Linked DNA regions of Homo sapiens: all the other regions are reported to be linked to region 5. Evidence: microRNA targets listed by miRTarBase, many of them from high-throughput screens and not tested one by one. Region 5 holds a microRNA gene; each other region holds the end of a gene's coding sequence.

Region 1 (3,000 bases), not on the chromosome of region 5:
CACTGCTCCTGCTGCTAGGCCTAGGGTTTAGCAGGGTCTCTCAGAGAGTCTGATGGCCTTACAAGGTTGAGCCAGCATCCTGTCCTTAACCCACATTCCCTCAGGCTGGAGGGTGGGGGAGTGGGTGGCAGAAGGCCATTCATTGCTCATGGAATTAAGAGGTCCTCAAAGCCAGTGATGCCACCCTGGTATAGCAAGGACCAGGCTGCCTGGGGGGCAGGTGGTGGCAGCTGCCGTAGAGTGACAGGCATGTGTTTTCTTCTCAGAAACAGACTGAATTTGATCTGATTAATGTGAAGGACTGGCCAGTCTGGGAAACCGCCTGCCACGTGGAAGAGCCAAACCCGACTCTCTGCTGCCACATGCCGTTCCCATGCCCGGCTGCTGGGCACCTGGGAGAGCTTCCAGAATCCTCGCAGACAGCCCAGAGCCTGCCGCTACCCTCGGCCTGCCCACCACCAAGCAAGCAGCAAGCAAGATGGGGTTCTCATCAGTTCTTCCTCCCACAATGTAGGACCTTTCCTTTACCTTCCAATGGATAAAATAGTTCAGAGTTCATAGTCATATTCATAGACACAGAATCAAGCTTTTAACATATACATCCACCTCTATATGTTAAATAAAACATCAGATTATCAACACTGTCATTACGTAGAAACTTTGGTTAGCCAAGCAGTGCATTGTCAGTTACGTCATCTCTAAAAATGACCTGTGTCTGTTCTCTGGGGATTGCTGGGTCACAGGTGCCCCTCACCTTCCACAGTCAGGCAGGGAAGTTATAGGCACAAAGCTACGTCTGGAACCCCTTTGTGCCCCCTTTGTGTTCCTCAAGGAAGCAGTACCTTTGAAGAGATCTCTGCTGCATTAAGTGATGACCGGCTACGTTTCATGTCAGGCTTGCTTTGCCTTGTGGGCTACTCAGTGCAGAACCTGCTGTAACCCTCAGTTCAAAAAATGGACTGGCAATGTGATTAGCGTTGGATGCTTTACCATTCTCTTTAGTTGTTACCGTAATTCTGCTTTTTCATGGGAGTTTGAATCATGGACCATAACTTTTCAGTTATCAGATCAACTAAAGAAACATTTGTTGTTAAGCCTAATGTGCTGACCTATGTGCCTGCATTTTTTTTTTAATCTAGACATGTTTGGAGTGAGAGAAAGATGGAAAAAAGACATGGGGTAGGGACGTAAGTGGAAATCTATAGCCACAGCCTGAAGCTTTGACCACTGCGGTTTTCAGAGCCCTTTCTCCACACTCATTTCAGAGCCTCCTATGGTTTGGGAAGGAATAACACACTGGCCCATTAGTAAGGGTGAAGGCTGGAGGGATTTGTTGACTTCTTGGAATTATCAGAGGTAGGGTGGTCTTTAGCACAAAGACTTGCATGCAGAGATCCCTGGCAGAACACCCAGAGTGCCCGTGGCTCCCACCCCAGGGTCTGGCCGGTGTGCTGGATGCATGCCCAAGGGTGCTGGGCATCACTGGTCCTTGTGAGGATGCTTTTAAAGTTTTATATTTATGTCCCCAAACTTGGAAACAAGAACTCTACTTTAGCCTAACCCTCATGTCCTTTTTTGAATTGAGAAAATTACAGGAAATGGTGCCTTTGAAAATTAGAAAACTTGCTTACAGAGCTGTTCTAAATGGTAAATCCTCAATTTCCCCAAGACCGGTTGCTCTGAGAGTAGCTGGTAAAGAGGGGCGAACTAAAGACCTGTCCACCTGTAGCTCCGCTCATTTCTTAGAAACCACCTGCTTCCCAGAGTGCCAAGCCACAAGTACCAGGCTTCGTGGGCACAGACACCTCCTGGGCTGGGCAGAGTGACAGTGCTAGAAGACCCCAGAGAGAGGGCAAGGGCTTTGGGCAAGAAGCACTGGTGGTGTTTTAGGGACCGTCCTTCTCCCCTACCCAGGGAACTGGACCTGGCAGGGCACCGTGCTCATGTGGCTCCAAGGACAAGCATGGCGGTGGCCCCTTCTGCCTTCCAGGAGAGGTCTTGCTTTTGAAACCAAAATCATGTTCTTCTAAAGTGTCATCTTCTGCCCTCCCTGTCCCAATAGGGACCACATCTTATTTGTCTCAAACAGGGACTTGTGAGTACTTGGCAAGTTTTGCAGCCTATTTTTGTATTCTTAATTTGGGGAGTAAAGATGTTTGGTCTCAAAAACCTTTGAGGAATTGCCAAGAATGGCGAGTGATTGCTTTCCTTCAGAGAACAGACACTTGGAATTTCTCCTTTTAGTGTTTATATACGTGCAGATTAATTTATATATATATATATACACACACACATATACAGTATAAATACTCATTTGATTCTCGTAAAACGCGCATCTGGCGTGTGCAGTTGAGAAACTTGGTGGCACATGGGTGTTGGGGGAGTAGCCTGTGTTGGAGGGACACCAGTGCACTAGGCAGCTGGGGCGGCCCAGGCTGAAGCCATCTCCGGGTGTCTGAGAAACCACCCAGTGCCTCACCTCCAGATCCTGCTGGCATCACCTCCAGAGCCCTGCATGCACTGGCTGAAGAGTTGGTCTGTGGAGAGGATTTTCTTGGTTACTTGTATTCACGGTTAATTTACAACCCAAACAGCAAAACACAGTTGGTGGACAAGTTCATGCAGGACCTACAGTGACCCAGCCATGGGCACTAGCTCATCTTTCAGGTGGAAAAGTACAGTGCTGCCTGCCCTGGTATGTTTTTCTTATAGATGTTAGCCCTGCCCAACAGCCAGGGCTACACTACAAAAGGCAAGAATGCCCATGTAAGGAGCCCAGCAGTCTGGACAGATCCTTCTTCCTCTGCTGTTGGATGAGAGTGAGTGAGTATGCTCTGGACCTTATCCTTGAAAGATGATCAAAAGCGATGATGAGGGAGGCAGTCATCACGCAGGTGCTTAAAGGGACATTGTAGGAGGTACTCAAGGGTTTGGGGGCAAAACCCTGAATCCAGCCAGTCGTGCACAGAGACACACCCACACTAGCCCAGTGGCAGTGGG
Region 2 (3,122 bases), not on the chromosome of region 5:
TGGTGGAGAACACATTTTTAAGCATACCACATATGGCCAGCACTTTATTTTCATTCTTTCCGATGCGTTACCTTCCTTTATGGTGCTACAAAAATAAATTTTTGTCCTACAGAAAAATCTCTCAGTGTAGAATGCCTTCACTTTTCATCTCTGGACTCTCAGATCAATTAATTCCACCAGTAATGATGAAACAACTTTATGAACTCTCCCCATCTCGGACTAAGAGATTAGCCATTTTTCCAGATGGGACTCACAATGACACATGGCAGTGCCAAGGCTATTTCACTGCACTTGAACAGTTCATCAAAGAAGTCGTAAAGAGCCATTCTCCTGAAGAAATGGCAAAAACTTCATCTAATGTAACAATTATATAATGTTTCCCTTTTTGATTATTGCATTGTATTTTAATTTGTGCAGAATGATAAAGAATGTTCCTTTTAGAAGTGTGTTATGTCTGTACCTGTCTGAAGAGTGACATTAAACTTTGAAAGGACTTCACTGCTCCTTTACGATATTCCAAATAGTTTTTTACATTGGAAAAACTAATTCTTGGGATTCTTTCATACATTTTCATCAAAACTTTCAGTGTGATTATGTATTCATATCTTCAGTTTAATATGTCAGTATAATAGATATTGTTCAAAAGTTTCTTGTTGCTAAAGTGGTGTAATCTGTTACACAGATGAATAGCTAGATGTGGAAAGAGATATGTAAACAAGAAACCTTTGGGTATTGTTTCTTAAGTAAATATTGGGACAATCATGGTAAGCAAACTTAGTTCTGTAACTGCATTTTTCACCTTAAAAGTTAAATGAAATGCATGATGGTATTTTATTCCTTGAATTATGCAATGCAACATTTTACATGTAAATAGCACTGGTCATATACTGATGTATATGGTTATCTGGGTTATATCTATTTTTATGTAAACTCTATTTTGTTTTTGGCAAGAAGTGAAATTGAGACTTATGTGCAGGTTGCCATTGAATTTTGCTCTGGTGAATGCTGAGATCCAGCTTTTTCTTACAAATAAATGGGACCCTGTTTTCCAATACAAATGTACCGTGTTTTTGTTAGGTACAGTCTGGATCATGGCATGTAGAAATAGAAATTTAGAATTTTACTGCAGCTTTGATGTGCATATTTGAACTTTTTAACATTTGTAACTTTGGTGGCAAAGAGAATTTTAGCTTCTATCGATTTTGTAAGTCTTCAGCTGAACCACTAATAGCAGTCATAGTGAAGATTAGCACTACTTAGAATTAAATTAGGAAGTCTTTTATCATTGCAGGATTGTACATACTACTTTATAAAAATTCTCACCTTTGATTTTAAATCCCAGTACCTAGTTATATCTAACCTATCAAAGGCAAGATATCATTTATTGGACTTCTTGAAAATAAAAGTTACAAAATCCAACAACAACAACAACAAAACAATGTTCTTGGTTTTAATGTTCCAGTTGCTGTGAAATAGAACTCCTACAATCAAAAGACAGTTTTAGGAAGTCTTATTTATTGATTTTAAAAGTTTTACATGTAGGAGTGTGGGAATGAAGGAATTCTGGAGCTTTTTGACACAAAACCTATTACCACATTTAGCAGTTAAATGGCTATAGGTGGGAAGTAGGATTTAGATGTATAGAAAAGTAAGAAAATCTTACTTAGAAAAAAGCCCCTTGAAACTTGCAGGATTTACTTAATAAAAATACACGCTATGAGTCATAATTGTGCCAAGTTGTTTCATGCAGTCCTCAAAAATTAGATGTAATTGAGCTTTGTGTAATATTATGTCAGCTTTAACATATAATATTTTGAATATTTTAGCTATATTTAGTGGCTTTCTGCAAGCAACTAGAACAGAGAAGTAATGGGTCAATAATCTTGACCTTAATTTAAAACTTTCAATGGAGATAGGGCTAGAAATACTTTTGCCAAATAGCATTCTTATTCACTTTATGCCGGTATTTAGAAAAAATAAATTATAGCAAGTATGATTTCTAAGAATGTTTTTCTATAAATTACTAATTGTAAAAAGTCTTGCTTTTTAAAACAAGTTGGTAATGCATATCATGGAAGGCATATTTTGTATGTATAAATTCACCACAATTAAAGATTATTCTTGTCAGTCCTTGCTATGTAGAATGACTATTCTAAATATTAATGTATTAAAAAGAAAATACAACAAAATGTATATTTAGACACGAGCTTACATGGCATACCTTATATTTGTATCATTCTTTAAAGTTTACAAAAAAAAACCTTATGTTTTTATGTAATCAGTCATTACACTAGGGAGAAATTTATCAGCTTTAGTTCTAAATATGCTCATGAGGTATAAAAGCTATTTCTTCATCAGTATTTTGCTTTTATGCTGCTTTTTCTTTTTGATACTCCAGGTTTATAAACTATCTTTTAAAATTTTAAGCCAGGACTTCAAAAATTGTAGAGTACTTGTTTGGCGTTCCCTACCTTCATTCTCTTAGGGTTAAGGAGCCTTTCTTTCTGCAGCTAAGGGCAGAGGCTGTGCCTAGGGCTATACCACCACTAGCATCTGTATTTGAGACTGTTTCCTTAGATGGGTAAGAGGTGGAAAACAAACTTAGTATCAGGGGTCCATGAAGCCCATGGCATCATTTTTGAAAATATTTCTAGTTTTGTAGCCAAAGCAATTGGTTTTAGTAAAATGAGACTTCTTCAGGAGTCACTCCTTTACTGTGGACCCATTGCTTAGTGGGAATGGAAGTATATGTATCTATCTTGTGTATTAACTTCTGACTTATTTATACAAGAGCAGCTATAGGAGTTTACAAAAGAACTTTAAGTTATTAAGTTACTATAAATTTGGGGATCCTAGAGTGATCTTAAATATGGCAAGATACAGCTCATTTAGAATAAAATCTCACATCCATTATTTTAAAGGGAATGATTGGGGGGAAAAACTGGTGAAAAAGAAATATAAAAAGGACCCTAAAAAGAATTCTGCAAAATAAGAGAAGAAATAATTTGTGACAGGTAATAGAATACTAGTAGGATAGAAACAACTAGAAAGGAAAGTGTGACACAGTTTTTAAATTTAGATGTAGAAAATAATGAATTAATGAGATTGGTGAAAGGAAATCA
Region 3 (3,122 bases), not on the chromosome of region 5:
CTCTTGCAGTGCCTCATCTTCCCAAAATGCAAACGGGATCACATTCAATCTGCTAAAAAATCTGCAGTCTAGCCGGGGATGGTGGCTCATGCCTACAATCCCAGCACTTTGGGAGGCTGAGGCAAAAGGATTACTTGAGGCCATGAGTTTCGAGATCAGGCTGGGCAACAGAGTGAGACCCTGCTTCTAAAAAAAACAAAACTGCAATTTGATCTCTCAGCATGATTCCACGTTTAAGCTTCTGAGCACAGCACAGTAGGATCTGGTCCATGCCTGCTGGTTCAACCTCATCTTCCACCACTCCACACTTCACACTCTATACACCATGGAATGCGAAACTACTCGTAGTTCTCAAGCTTGCATGCCTTCAGACCTTGCTGTTCCTTTTCGTGTCTGCCTGGCAAGCCCCTCCTCACCCTGAAGTCTCAGAGCACATAGTTGCTGTAAGTTTTCCTGCAATCGTTTGGCCAGTCTGAGGGGCTCGCATGCTCCAGCCACACTGTGTTTGGACCTACATAGAAGCCACTGCTTACAGTTTTTTTGTTTTTGTTTTTGTTTTTTTGAGACAGGATCTCACCCTGTCTTCCAGGCTGGAATGCAGTGGTGTGATCATAGCTCACTATAACCTCAAACCCCTGGGCTCAAGAGAACCTCTCGCCTCAGTCTCGGGAGTAGCAGGGACTACAGGCACGAGGCACCATGCCCGGCTAATTGTTTTTCTTTTGTAGAGATGGAGTCTCACTGTGTTGCCCAGGCTGATCTTGAATTCCTGGGCTCAAGTGATCCTCCCACCTCAGACTCCCAAAGTATTGGGATTACAGGCGTTAGCCACCACACCTAGCCTCTATGTCTTTTCATATTTACCCCAGAGAATCCATGCTAAGAAGATGGCTTTCAGTACAACCAGTCAATAAATAAATATTCCTGTCTATGCATAGCCAACCACAGGTGGGCACATAGGCTATGCTCAGCACGTGCTTATAGGTTTGAGGGCCTAGGTGGAGGAGGTTGCGGAGGGTATGGGTCTGGGGCCTGTCTGGCTCCAACCTCACAGCTTTGGCTCAGGACTGGTGAAGTACCCATAGTGGGTACTTGGCTCATCTGCTGAAGCTTGCAGGCCCTCTGGCTTCTCATTTGGCATACAGGATCAACAGCTGGTAACCTGAAAGCTACATTTGGACTGCATGTTTTGTTGGATCAGTAGTTATTTAATTAAAGATAGTTACTGACATTCAAAAGTTGGGTTTCACATACAAATTAGGATTCCTGACTTCTTTAAAAATGGGAGGATATGGCAGGGCCACTTGGCAGCAACCCAGTGACATGGGGGCGGGGGTGCAGTGTTTCATCTGTACTTGAGAGCACCAGAGCCCCCACAAGGCCTGGCCACATCAACATGAGTTTGGCAATCTGCTGTACAAGTGAAAGATGTGGGCTGGGGAGTCGGATGGCCTGTGTGGAGTCCTGGCTCTGGCACTGACTAGCGGCAACACCTTGAGCCAATCACTTATCCATGCCAAAGTTGCTTTGTCTGTAAAATCAGAACCCTTCAGAGGATTCTTGGAAGGGCTGAATGAGGTCTCATGATGTGTTTAGCAGGGCATGTGTTCAGCACCTGGTAGCTGTGAACTGATGGAGCCTGGAAGGGAGAGAGCAGGTGCAGGGCAGACCACGCAGGAGGCTTCTCGTCACCAATGAACATTTATTGAGTGTCCACATGTGCACAGCTTTGAACTTGGCGATCACAGAACGCACTGGGGGAGGGAAGCAAGGGATCAAGAGTGTGTGTGTGTGTGTGTGTGTGTGTGTGTGTGTGTGTGTGTGTGTGTGTGGTCCCCCTGGGTTTATAAGAAAGGTAGTCCCTGCTGGAGCCGCCAGTCGCGTCTCTGCAGAGAGGAGTCATAGCAGGGGTGGGAGTTAAAGCCAGGCACCACGGTGGCAGTGGAGTGTAATCACTGGGGAAACATGCGGATTCTGGGGAAGTGTCCCTCCTGTTCCTGGCTCCAGCCAGGCCAGATGGCACCAGGGGGACAGGAATCAGATGCTCAGGTGTCCAAGCAGGGATAAGGACAGGCAAAATAAATAACCCCCCAACCCCCATCGTCACTCTGCTGCAACACGACACAAAGGTTTAAAGATCTGGGCCCAAAGACTCTGGGTCCCTTCAAGCAAGCTCAGGTGGAAGGAGGTTTCCCCACCCCCCACCAGGCCTGTCTGCCCCAGGTTGCCCTAGGATGGAGGCAGTTCAGACCCTGGGTCACTGAAGCTGATAGGAAGAACTGCGATATCAATGGCCTAAGCCTGCTGTCTGCCCAAGGGAGCCAAGGGCAAGAGCCAAAGGGCCAATTTAAAGGACGTGGACCTGGGGGGCCAGAGGAGGCACCACAGCCGAGGGGAGCCCACGCCCTGGCCGGCAGGGCACATGGGCTGAGGCAGTCTGCTCCTGCCAGCCCTGTCTTACCCTGGAGCCTCCCTCCTGCAGGGGAGCCAGACATCGGGCACAATGACACCTAGTGCCCCCCTCCCTGGGGGCTGCTCCAACCTTCCCCGGCCTGGCGGGGACAACCACGTTGATTTCCAAGCCGATCCCTGCCCCCATGGGGGCCTGAGGGGCGGAACGCAGTTCCTTACACTTGAGGGGTGGGCACCATGCCCTTGCCCTCAGAAAAGCCAGAAAGCTGGGGTGTTTTGGGGAGGAAGTCTGGGGAGGGGGGGGCCAGATTGGGGGCTTCAGGGAAGATGCCTCCTCCCTCCTTCCCTCTCTGCCCGCCCCTGGGTCTGTCCCCGGTGGACACCCCTCAGGGCTCTGACAGGCACTGCTCCAAGGCAGCCATGCGGTAGTGGCTGGCCGTCTCCTCGCCCGCCTGCAGCCTCATGGCCTCCCGGCACAGCCGGTTGGCCCGCGCCAGCTCCACCAGGACACCCTGATAGGCGGCCACCATCTCGGGCTTGACAGAGTTGGGGCTGACACTGCCTAGCAGCTGGAGCAGCTCCTGCGGCCAGCGGGAGCGCAGGGCAGCGGGGGCCAGCCAGGGCAGCAGAGGCACACAGCCGGTGAAGGCCTGCATGCCCAGGAACCAGAGCTCCTGCAGGTCGGCCCAGATGCCCTCATACTCAGGGGA
Region 4 (3,122 bases), not on the chromosome of region 5:
AGGGCCATAGGTCAGAAGCCAGAGGGACTTCCTCAAACTGTCCTCCCCCTGTGACCGGCAGGGCCGTGCCCAGAGGCAGGGTATGCACCGGAAGCCGCCCAGGGGGCCGCCCCACCTCAGTCTCTGATCAGAAGCAATAAGGCCTTTATGTGCCTGGATGCCCGGGAGGGAGCGCGGGCAGGGTTGCCAGCCCGGCGGGGTCCGGCGGGGGCGGCATCCCCCCGGAACGGCCCCTCTCGCCTCCGCAGGGACAGCGCTGGCCCCCGTGGGCGCCCCTGCCCTCCGCACCCGCCGCAGCCGGAGCCCCGCGCCGCCGCCGCCAATGCCGCTGCCCCGGCCCCCGACACCGCCCGCAGGCTGCTGGCAGTGGGACGGGCCCTGGGGCTGCGGGGGCGAGGGTGCCGCCCCCCGCCAGGCCCTGGCCGCTGCCGAGTGCCCACCCTGTGCCATGGCCGGGCCCCCACCCGCCCCCCAGCCCCTGCCGGGAGACGCCAGCTTTTACAGCCTCCCGCCCCCACCGCTACCGCCCACCTCGGATCCCCTCGAGACCCCAGCGCCCTCCCCTAGCCCCAGCCCCAGCCCCCAGGCCGTGTGCTGGCCCAGCGGCTGGCATTAGCTCTACCCGCCCTGCCTTCTCTTCTCATATGCAATATCAGTCATTCACAGGGGCGGCCGGTCTCCAAAATGCAAAATGCGCTTCAGCCCCCGAGGGCCCCCAGTATTGGTCGGTGCCCCCCATCTGCCGTTTTCCTTTCCAAACGAAAGGAAACCCACAAATCCAACAGAAAACACACACACACACACACACACACACACACACAGAACAGGCGATTATTTATTTGTTTTTAATTTATTTTGTCATATTTTTGTAAAACGGCAGAAATGCAATAAAAACTATATTTCAACAGTGCCCGAGGTCAGAGCAGTGGAAAAGGGAGTGGGGGTGGGGGAGTCTGGGTGGCTGGGGCCTAGGTTGGGAACCCCCTCCCCCCATCCTGGTACAGGCTGGCTTGACCCATGAGGGCCTCCTCCCAAAAACTGGGTCTTGGCCACAGATGGAAAACTCCAGGCTGCGCCGCCTCTGAGACGGCCCAGATTTGGAGGCCAACTTCAGCCCTGGCTTCAGCCACTAGACAAAGGAAGGAATCTCTAAGTGCTGAAAAGAGGCGACAATGTGTGCACAGGCCCCAGTCCTGAGTAAGACTCCTTCTCAAAGAGGACAGCGCGGTGGTTTGCAAGACGTGGCCCCTTCTGGCACACCCGCCTCCTGGAACATCGTCTGGGGAGCCAGAGACAGTGGGAAGAGCTTGTGGCATGAACATCAGAAGGCACCTGGCACCTGAGCCTCCTGCAGTCCCCGACTTGTGATACTGAGAGAATGGCACATTTGGGTGTCCCCAGGACACGGGGTGGCATTGGGATGCAGCAGGGATGTCCCACTGTGGGACAGACATCAGACCCAAGTCACTGGGACTCTGTCGTATGACTCAGGAACAGGAACGTGGCCTCTCAGACCCTCACATTTTTCAGGAAGAGGACAAATGTGTCCACATCCAAAGGCTTAAGGCTCAGAGACCAACATGGCCATGCTGCAGGGCTGGGCCAGTGTGAGCAAGGGGCCCTTTGGGAGGCTGTGGAGAAGTCAGAGTTCACTGGAGGCAGGAGAACAGCCTGTGCAAAGGCGGAGAAGGTGGAAGGCAGTTTGGGGGAACAGTGGGGTAAAGGGGACCCCAAAGGCAGGAGGGGTAGACAGAGGCCGGCTCAGGGGCCCAGCGTCCTCCCACAGGCAGTGGGAGCTACACAGGGTGTGTGTGCCAGGTGGGGCATGTCCCGACAGACCCAGGGGTTCTAGGGGGAGGCCACAGGGAGGCAAGCTGGGGCACAGCCCTCAGACCCCAAAGGAGGGAGCTGAGGTAGGGGAGGGGAAGGAGGTGCCCGCCCAGCAGCCCTGCAGAGCGACGGGCAGACAGCACAGGCAGGAGACAGCCCCCAGCCACTCAAAGCAGAAACTGGGAGCCAGAGAGGTCTAGACAGGCCGAGGGGAAAGGCGGGAGTGCCCCCTGCTCCCACTCTGGCCCCTGGCCTTGGAAGCTGAAGTCCCACCATCTCAGTCATTCACAGATGGACACCGCAGGCCTGCCCAGGTCACACCAACCCTGGGGACTGGGACTCCCCAGCTGGCCTGGGAGCCTCCAGGGCATTCAGCCGGACCCGGCACCATCGACCGCAGTCAAGTGTGCATTTCCTGACCACCTGTCCTGTGACCACATGGCCCCTGTAGCACCATCACTGTGGTGTAGACACTGCCGGGAGCTGGGAGGTACAGCAGGGTGGCTGTGCTGTGCCTGGGCCTGGTCAGCCACTCCTTGTGTAGGACGGGAGCCCACCCTGGCACTCTCCGTCCTTGGGAGAGATGGGCCGCCTAGGCCCGAGGGTCTGACACAGGCAGGGCCCTCCACAGTGGAATCTGGGGCAGGCGGACCCTCCATAGCCCGGAGTGTCTGCTAGCTCTGTGGCCCAACCCTACACCATCCCAACGCCCTCAGACTCAGCTCTCAAAACAGAGACCTCTGCCAGGCACGGTGGTTCACGTCTGTAACCCCAGCACTTTGGGAGGCTGAGGAAGGTGGATGACTTGAGCCCAGGAGTTTGAGACCAGCCTGGGCAACATGGTGAAACCCTGTCTCTACAAAAAATTTTTAAAATATTAGCCAGGCAGCCAGGTGCGGTCACAGCACTTTGGGAGGCCGAGGCAGGCGAAGCACCTGAGGTCAGGAGTTCGAGACCAGCCTGGCCAACATGACAAAACGCCGTCTCCACTAAAAATAGAAAAATTAGCTGGGTGTAGGGGCGCACGCGTGTAATCCCAGCTACTCAGGAGGCTGAGGTAGGAGAATCACTTGAACCTGGGAGGCAGAGGTTGTAGTGAGCTGAGATCTTGCCACTGCACTCCAGCCTGGGAGACACAGCGAGACTCCATCTCAAAAAAAAAAAAAAATTAGCCAGGCATGGTGGTGGGTGCCTGTGGTCCCAGCGGCTTGGAAGGCTGAGGTGGGAGGAAGGCTTGAGGTCGAGGCTGCAGTGAGCTGTGATTACGCCACTGCACTCCAGCCTGGGAAAGA
Region 5 (3,122 bases):
TCTTTGAGTTTTAAAAAATAAATGTACAATTCCAGAGCTTTGGGTAAAAAATATATACACCCTCATAGCAGGAGCAGCAGCTGCTTTTGCTACGGCTGTTGCTGTCTCTTCAAAAGGGAAAGAGGTGGTGCCAGAAAGAAGGGTGAGTCTGTGCCAGGAAACCTCACCCAGTAGCTGCCAGGAGCCCCTGCACCCCTCAGGCCTTGAGGCTGGTGATGGGAGAGGGAGGGGAGTAAAGGTAATAAAGGCCTTGCCAGAGTCCAGTGGCGCCTTTACAGTCTCTGCCATCCCCCTCCCCCACTTTGGGGCTGCCTGCCCCAGGTATAGGGATCCACCCCACCCCAGCTCTATGGGGAGGACAAAGGGAGAGTCAAAGAGAGAGGGACAGAGACCATGTTGTTGGTGTCAGACACATGAGCCAGAAGGGGGATGTCAACTCCCTCCTTAGCAGTTAGATATCCCAAAAAGCAGGAGTGTGGGCAGCAGACAACCCTAGCTCCTGATACTGCTCTACCCGAGCCCACTGCAAGGCAGGGGGAGGGTCCTCTAGGCAGCTGAGGCCTGTGTTTCCCTGAGCATCTTTTACCCTCTCATCAGAGCCCATCCCTGGACCTTCCAGAGGCCTGAGTGGGGGACTTGCAAGGGCTGATGGGTAACCCCTCCCACCTGCTGCTACTCCCTGCCCCAAAAAGCAGCTTGGCTCACAAGCCTGGGCATGCAGGGCAGCACGAGGAGCTGAGCAGGGAGTGTGGGGGTGGAGAAAGCACCCCGCACCATCCAGGGGCAGAGTAGACAAGGGTAGCACCAAACAGAAGGACCCCTCCCCAGCACACACAACATCCACCCTCAATTACCAGATGCACTCCTGCTCCCTAAAAGAAGACACACACACACACACACACACACACACACACACACACACACACACACACACACACACGGCAACATAATATTCCTGGGGGTCCCAGCCCTGACCAGGAAGAAGCTGGACAGGTGGTGGAGAAGAAGGCTGCCAATCCCTCCCACAATCCCACTCTGCAAGACAGAAGGGTGAGCAGCATTCTTTCCTGCTGCAAGAGGAAGTTGGAAGCTCCATCCCCAGAACAGATCTCGATGGGAGGACATAGAGGAAGGAGCTTTCTATCCCCTTTCTCAGAGGGGACAGGAACCAGCAAAGTGTAGTTTTGGCTTGAAGGAGCAATGGGGAGGGGACTTCAGCAGGATGAACAGACTTATGGGTCCAGGGGTAAATCCATCGACCTCTTTCCCGTGGAGCAGGAAGTTGCTCCACGGGAAAGATGTCAGATGTTGGTTGAGACATCGTGCAAAGTGCTTGAGTGCCAGGTGCCCAAGGATCTGGCGGGTCTGACTGGAGCCTCCACTCTCACTGACTGTTTGCCTCCAGCTTGTAGGAGAGCTCGAAGAGGAGGTTCTGGTTGTCGATGACCTGAAACTGGCGCACATAGGCCTTGGTCTGCAGGTGATTGGGGGATGCCTCCATGTCCAGGCCTAGTGGGTAAAGAGGGAGAGGCAGTCAGGTTCCCAGCTTCCCTTCTTCCTCTACACACACACCGGGCAGAAGATCAGGCTGTGGACTGAGACAGATGTTGGGCAGGAAGGCCTCTGCAGAGGCAAGGAGAGAATGGGGAACCAGCAAGTGTATGGAAATACACATCTGGACAGGGAGTTCTCCCCTGAACCCTCCCGTTCAGTCAAAGCTCTATCTGTACTGCTCTCAGTACCCTGGGTACTCACAAAGGGGCCGGCTCCGGTATTTGCGGATTGTCCTCACTTTTTCGGCCACTGAATGCTGGGAGATGACAAGGAATGAGCCTTGAAAGGGGCACAGAAAGAGGCTCCCCCTCTTATGCTCCCCCTCCGCCATTCTCCCACTCTGCTTTACTCCCTCCAGTCTCCAATTCTGGAGGGTCTCTGAAGGACCAAAGGAGTGGGTGTAACAGAGTGCCATGTGAGGGGGAGGTGAAGTTGCCCCCAAGCTGCCTGTCAGCTCTGCCACCTGTGGGTGGGTTGCCACAGTGATGCCACCAGGGAGACAGTCAAGAGTCTGTTAGGCAAGCTGGGCACTTGGAGGAAGGCTGCTATTTTTGGGAGGTGATGAGAGAGGGAGAGGATGCAAGCCCCCCACTTGTGGGACTAGGGGTTTGCAGTGCCACTCACTCACCAGCTTCTCGATGTTCACCAAACCATCTACAAGGGTCTTACTCCCTTCGTGCAGGAAAGTCAGGTCTAGGGGATGTGGAGAGAATCCAATGTGAGGAAAGGATAAGAGAGGAGTTCGAAAGGGGCCACTGCACCCGAGGACCCCGCTCTTCCCCAGAACCCACTCCGTCTGTGGTGGGGGGCTCCTCTCCAGGTGGGTACTCAGGGCTGAGTCGAGAGGGAGCTGGAAGTCAGAAGCAGGGCATAGGAGAAGGGAAGCATGGGTGGAAGCGGCACAGCTTGGGAGTAACTCTCTCACCTTTGAGGATCAGAGGCACGAAGGGAATCACAGGGGGCTTCATTTTGGAGATCACTTCTCGGTAGCTTTTGTGGTTCCTGCAGGGGTCCTAGTATTCCACAGGAGAGAGATCAAGGGACAGACTGGCCAATGCATCCCAAAGATGTCCTCAGCTTCCTCCCTCACCCCCTGCCTTGTATACATTCCTGATCAGATAGGGGTGCTGGGGGCTTTCTAATGGTGTGGTGGGGAGGGACCTGACTACTCCCCCTTTCCTTCAAGAAAAACAGGGGCGCAATCCTTCCAACCTCACCCTCCAGCATGGTAAGGAGGGTGGGGGGTCCCATACACTAAACACCTTGAAAGGAAAGCTTGAGGAAGGGGGTTTATGGGAACAGAGGGTTTCTGGGCTCTCAGTCCAAGAGCAGAAGAAAGAGCCAAACCCACTCACCGTCAGGTTCTCAAATTTGCGAAACAAGTTCTTGAATTTCCCTGGCAGCTTCTGCAGAGTTTGAAGGAAGGAGAAGGGATATCAGAGTGGAGCTCCTTGGGTTACATGGGAGCCTCGGATTAATTCTCCCTGTTGGAGGGCAAAAGGGCCTGCATGGCTTGTAGGGGGCTGGGAAGCTGGTGGGTGGGGAAATGAAGTCAGGCCTTGGCTAAG
Region 6 (3,122 bases), not on the chromosome of region 5:
CAAGGTATTATTAAAGATAAAACTAATTAAATGAGGCAGTGAAAGAAGTAAAAATTACATTTTTTTAAGCATTTACGTGACTAAATGCTTTACACATCCTTATTCTCTACTATAACCTTATTTGACAGGATTTTTTAAAATTTCTTTTTATTATACTTTAAGTTCTAGGGCACATGTGCACAACGTGCAGGTTTGTTACATATGTAGACATGAGCCATGTTGGTGTGCTGCACCAATTAACTTGTCATTTACATTAGTATATCTCCAAATGCGATCCCTCCCCCCTCTCCCCGCCCCACAACAGGCCCCGGTGTGTAGGATTATTTTCTCTATTTTATAGATACGGGTTATTGACTAGAAAATTAAGTAACTGCCCAAGATCACATAACAGGAAGATAGTATTCAAAACCAGATCTGACTCCAAGGCACCTGCAAAGCAAATGGGAAATAAGGAAATTCCAAGCTAATGCTGGGGTGACTCAAATTCTCATGAATAAAGTATGGATTAGGAAAATATGACATCAATTAAAAGGTGCATCTGAGGGTGCCCCAATATTCCTTAGCAGAGCTTTAAAAATTAGTGGTAACATTTTTTGATGCATAGTATTCAGAAAACAGCAACATTTTCTTGGTACGTAAAACTTTATGATGCCTGCTAAATGCAAGTGCTCCAGAGTAAAGAGGTTACAAAGATGAATGGCAAGATCCTTGCTCTAAAGGTTCTTGCATTTTAGTATGAGAAATAAGGTATGTTACACCAAGAGTTGCTTCACAAGGTACCAAGCTATAGCCCCTATAGTTATGTACCATGTGAAGAATAAAGTGCTATGGGAATTTATTCATTCACTCAACAAATATTTATTGGGTGCCAATGTAACACCAAACAAGACAGATACAATGCCTGCTCTCAGAAAGCTGATAATTCATATTACTTTTGCTGCATGTACCAGAAAAAGAGGGATACATTTTAGCTTGGCCTTCAGCTATGCCTAGACTTTGGGCAGGTGGACATCTGGGGATTGGGATGGCATTCTTAGGTACAAGGATAACAGGAGAAAAGTGAAAACACTAAAGCATGAGAAAATTAGTAGGACACGTATGGGGACTTTAAAGCAAGAAATATATTTTATCGACTTCAAGGTTCCATCAATTTAATTCAGGATCATTATTTTATAAACCAAAAGAAAAAATAGTAATTAAAGTTTTACTGAAATGGTTCTCAACTGGGGGCGATTACTGTCCTCTAAAGGGCATTTGGCAATATCTGGAACCATTTTTGTTGTCACAACTGATGAGAAACGACTAGTCTTTAGTAGATAACAGGTCAGGGATTATTGCTAATCATCTAAAACGCACAAGAGACCTCCCACAAAAAAAATTATTTGGCCTAACATGTCAATAATGCCAAGGTTGAGAACTCCTAAACTACAGAATGTTAGAAGTTGAAAGATGCATCTAGGATATCTAAAAAGTATTTTAAGATAGAAACAATGCAGTAGTTCAGTTTACCTGGAATGAACCCAAGATTTGTAAAGGAATACTGGGAAACAATGCTGGCACTCTATCTGAATCTGTTCTCTCACCTTTGGAATAGTAAAGTGATAATGATCAGGGACTATGTTCTAAGAAATTAATTTAATGCAGTGTAAGTCACAGGGCTGGCCTTTGATGACCACTCTGTCCAAACCTTGCTTTCCAGAAACCCTGCACTCTAATCACTCCGATTGATATATCTATTTCTGCTAATTCTCATCTCAGAATAACACTTACCTCACCAATCATATGGTATCGGAATATTTTTCTTTTCTAAAGCCTAGCTCTATGCCACTTATTCCTCCTCTCATGCAGTGTTTAACACATTCTTTTCTTCCTTTGAACTTTTAAAATATATCATCTGTATCTAACAGTATTCACTATTTGTGATTTATCCTTCCTCTACATATAAGTTCCTTTGGTTCATGATCCATGACTGCTTCATACTTGCAACTCTCAGGGGACGCACGATAGTGCCTTGCACATCAAAAGGGGTCAATAAATATTTGTAGAATGAGTAATGAATGAATATACAGTACTGGAAGACTATAATTAAATACAAACTCCTCAGACTTCTCTCAACCTTTCCTCACAGGGCTCATTTTGTAAACCTGAATCATTTTAGTAGCTCTCCAAGTCCTCATGCTTTGGCTATAGGGTCTCAGAGATAGTGGGGTTCTTTAACAAGTCCTTAACCCCTACTTTACTAAACACCATTTAATAAATTCCATTACATTTCAGATCATATCTCCAAGAGGTATCAGCCAGTGCTTGTTCTCAAGACATTTAAAACACCTTATATAGGCAGAGTCCCAAATTCCCTAAAAAAAAATTGACAATGAGGGTACAAATATAAACAATAAGAGGTCTACTCATTGCTCACAAATCCCAATTGCATTCTTGATCATATTTTTTGCACGTGTGTGTGTGTGTGTGTGTGTGTGTGTGTGTAGGGGGGAATTCAGAACATAACAAAAATCTTAAAAATGTATGAATGTCACAAACAAAATAAGAAAAAAGATCAGTTATAGAATTTAAGGAGATCTTTAAAAGATAATAAAAAGCAAGACTATTAACATTTTATTGTTATACAGCTTAATGGTGGAAGATAAGACTGTGGTCAATCCATATAGAAAATTAAGAAGACCATGTTTTAGAATATTTTGCAGGGCTTTTTTTTTTTTCGAAGTCCCCTCTTTTTTTTTCCTTCAGTGTGGTCCTTAAGCATCAATGTTTGGTGGTTGTTTCTAGCAAGTCTTTTGCTTCATTTATTTTGGCTGCTACGTAAGGAGATCCACCTGAGAGAACAAAGAAAAATGAATTAAAATACATTTCATCATTGACATACTTTAAAGTCCCCAAAATATAAAAATACTCTTTTTTGAATATTGTCTCACACATTAATCCTCTGACAAATTATTTTATAAGCTAACTAGAAATCAAAACAGTATAAATTAAACTTGATTAGTGAAGTCCTACAACTACCCAACAATAAAAAAAAACCTCTGAGAAAAATGATGAAAGAAAGTTATAATCAGGAATAACTTGAACAACATTCAACTACTGCACTGGTCAGACATTCACCTTTC

What was found. Region 5 holds the annotated microRNA hsa-miR-6867-5p (UGUGUGUGUAGAGGAAGAAGGGA, at 1,549-1,571, opposite strand). A microRNA usually pairs through its seed, bases 2 to 8, with sites in the 3' UTR of a target mRNA and lowers its output. Matches are read on the target gene's strand: a 7mer-m8 pairs with bases 2 to 8, a 7mer-A1 pairs with bases 2 to 7 and ends in A, and an 8mer does both.
Region 1: miRTarBase lists ZHX3 as a target of hsa-miR-6867-5p. Seed matches in the 3' UTR shown: 7mer-A1 at 2,284-2,290, 8mer at 2,285-2,292 and 8mer at 2,287-2,294.
Region 2: the mRNA of ABHD13 is a reported target of hsa-miR-6867-5p. The part of its 3' UTR that is shown has no 7-base or 8-base seed match.
Region 3: miRTarBase lists NCDN as a target of hsa-miR-6867-5p. Seed matches in the 3' UTR shown: 8mer at 1,825-1,832, 8mer at 1,823-1,830, 8mer at 1,821-1,828, 8mer at 1,819-1,826, 8mer at 1,817-1,824, 8mer at 1,815-1,822 and 17 more.
Region 4: the mRNA of ANO8 is a reported target of hsa-miR-6867-5p. Seed matches in the 3' UTR shown: 7mer-A1 at 789-795, 8mer at 790-797, 8mer at 792-799, 8mer at 794-801, 8mer at 796-803, 8mer at 798-805 and 8 more.
Region 6: miRTarBase lists DNAJC15 as a target of hsa-miR-6867-5p. Seed matches in the 3' UTR shown: 7mer-A1 at 2,478-2,484, 8mer at 2,476-2,483, 8mer at 2,474-2,481, 8mer at 2,472-2,479, 8mer at 2,470-2,477, 8mer at 2,468-2,475 and 8 more.

Annotation. Positions count from the first base shown.
Region 1 is chr20:41,182,468-41,185,467 of GRCh38, reverse strand. ZHX3 (zinc fingers and homeoboxes 3) reads left to right here. Exons shown (of 4, transcript NM_001384317.1): 4 at 267-3,000. The coding sequence ends at 277. Among named protein-coding and RNA genes, the nearest start is that of MIR6871, 15 kb to the right of the region's middle.
Region 2 is chr13:108,229,859-108,232,980 of GRCh38, forward strand. It overlaps ABHD13 (abhydrolase domain containing 13), which reads left to right. Exons shown (of 2, transcript NM_032859.3): 2 at 1-3,122. The coding sequence ends at 374. Among named protein-coding and RNA genes, the nearest start is that of ABHD13, 13 kb to the left of the region's middle.
Region 3 is chr1:35,565,340-35,568,461 of GRCh38, reverse strand. It overlaps NCDN (neurochondrin), which reads right to left. Exons shown (of 7, transcript NM_014284.3): 7 at 1,683-3,122. The coding sequence ends at 2,799. Among named protein-coding and RNA genes, the nearest start is that of TFAP2E, 6.4 kb to the left of the region's middle.
Region 4 is chr19:17,321,011-17,324,132 of GRCh38, reverse strand. It overlaps ANO8 (anoctamin 8), which reads left to right. Exons shown (of 18, transcript NM_020959.3): 18 at 249-910. The coding sequence ends at 616. DDA1 (DET1 and DDB1 associated 1) reads right to left here. Exons shown (of 5, transcript NM_024050.6): 5 at 835-3,122. Among named protein-coding and RNA genes, the nearest start is that of ANO8, 12 kb to the left of the region's middle. RefSeq lists enhancers at 570-619, 2,161-2,777.
Region 5 is chr17:40,192,051-40,195,172 of GRCh38, reverse strand. It overlaps MIR6867 (microRNA 6867), which reads right to left and starts at 1,576; the gene lies at 1,510-1,576. It overlaps RAPGEFL1 (Rap guanine nucleotide exchange factor like 1), which reads right to left. Exons shown (of 15, transcript NM_016339.6): 11 at 2,910-2,960; 12 at 2,480-2,567; 13 at 2,183-2,247; 14 at 1,756-1,810; 15 at 1-1,509. The coding sequence ends at 1,385. RefSeq lists enhancers at 556-605, 230-730.
Region 6 is chr13:43,106,887-43,110,008 of GRCh38, reverse strand. It overlaps DNAJC15 (DnaJ heat shock protein family (Hsp40) member C15), which reads right to left. Exons shown (of 6, transcript NM_013238.3): 6 at 1-2,831. The coding sequence ends at 2,761. Among named protein-coding and RNA genes, the nearest start is that of LINC00400, 4.7 kb to the left of the region's middle.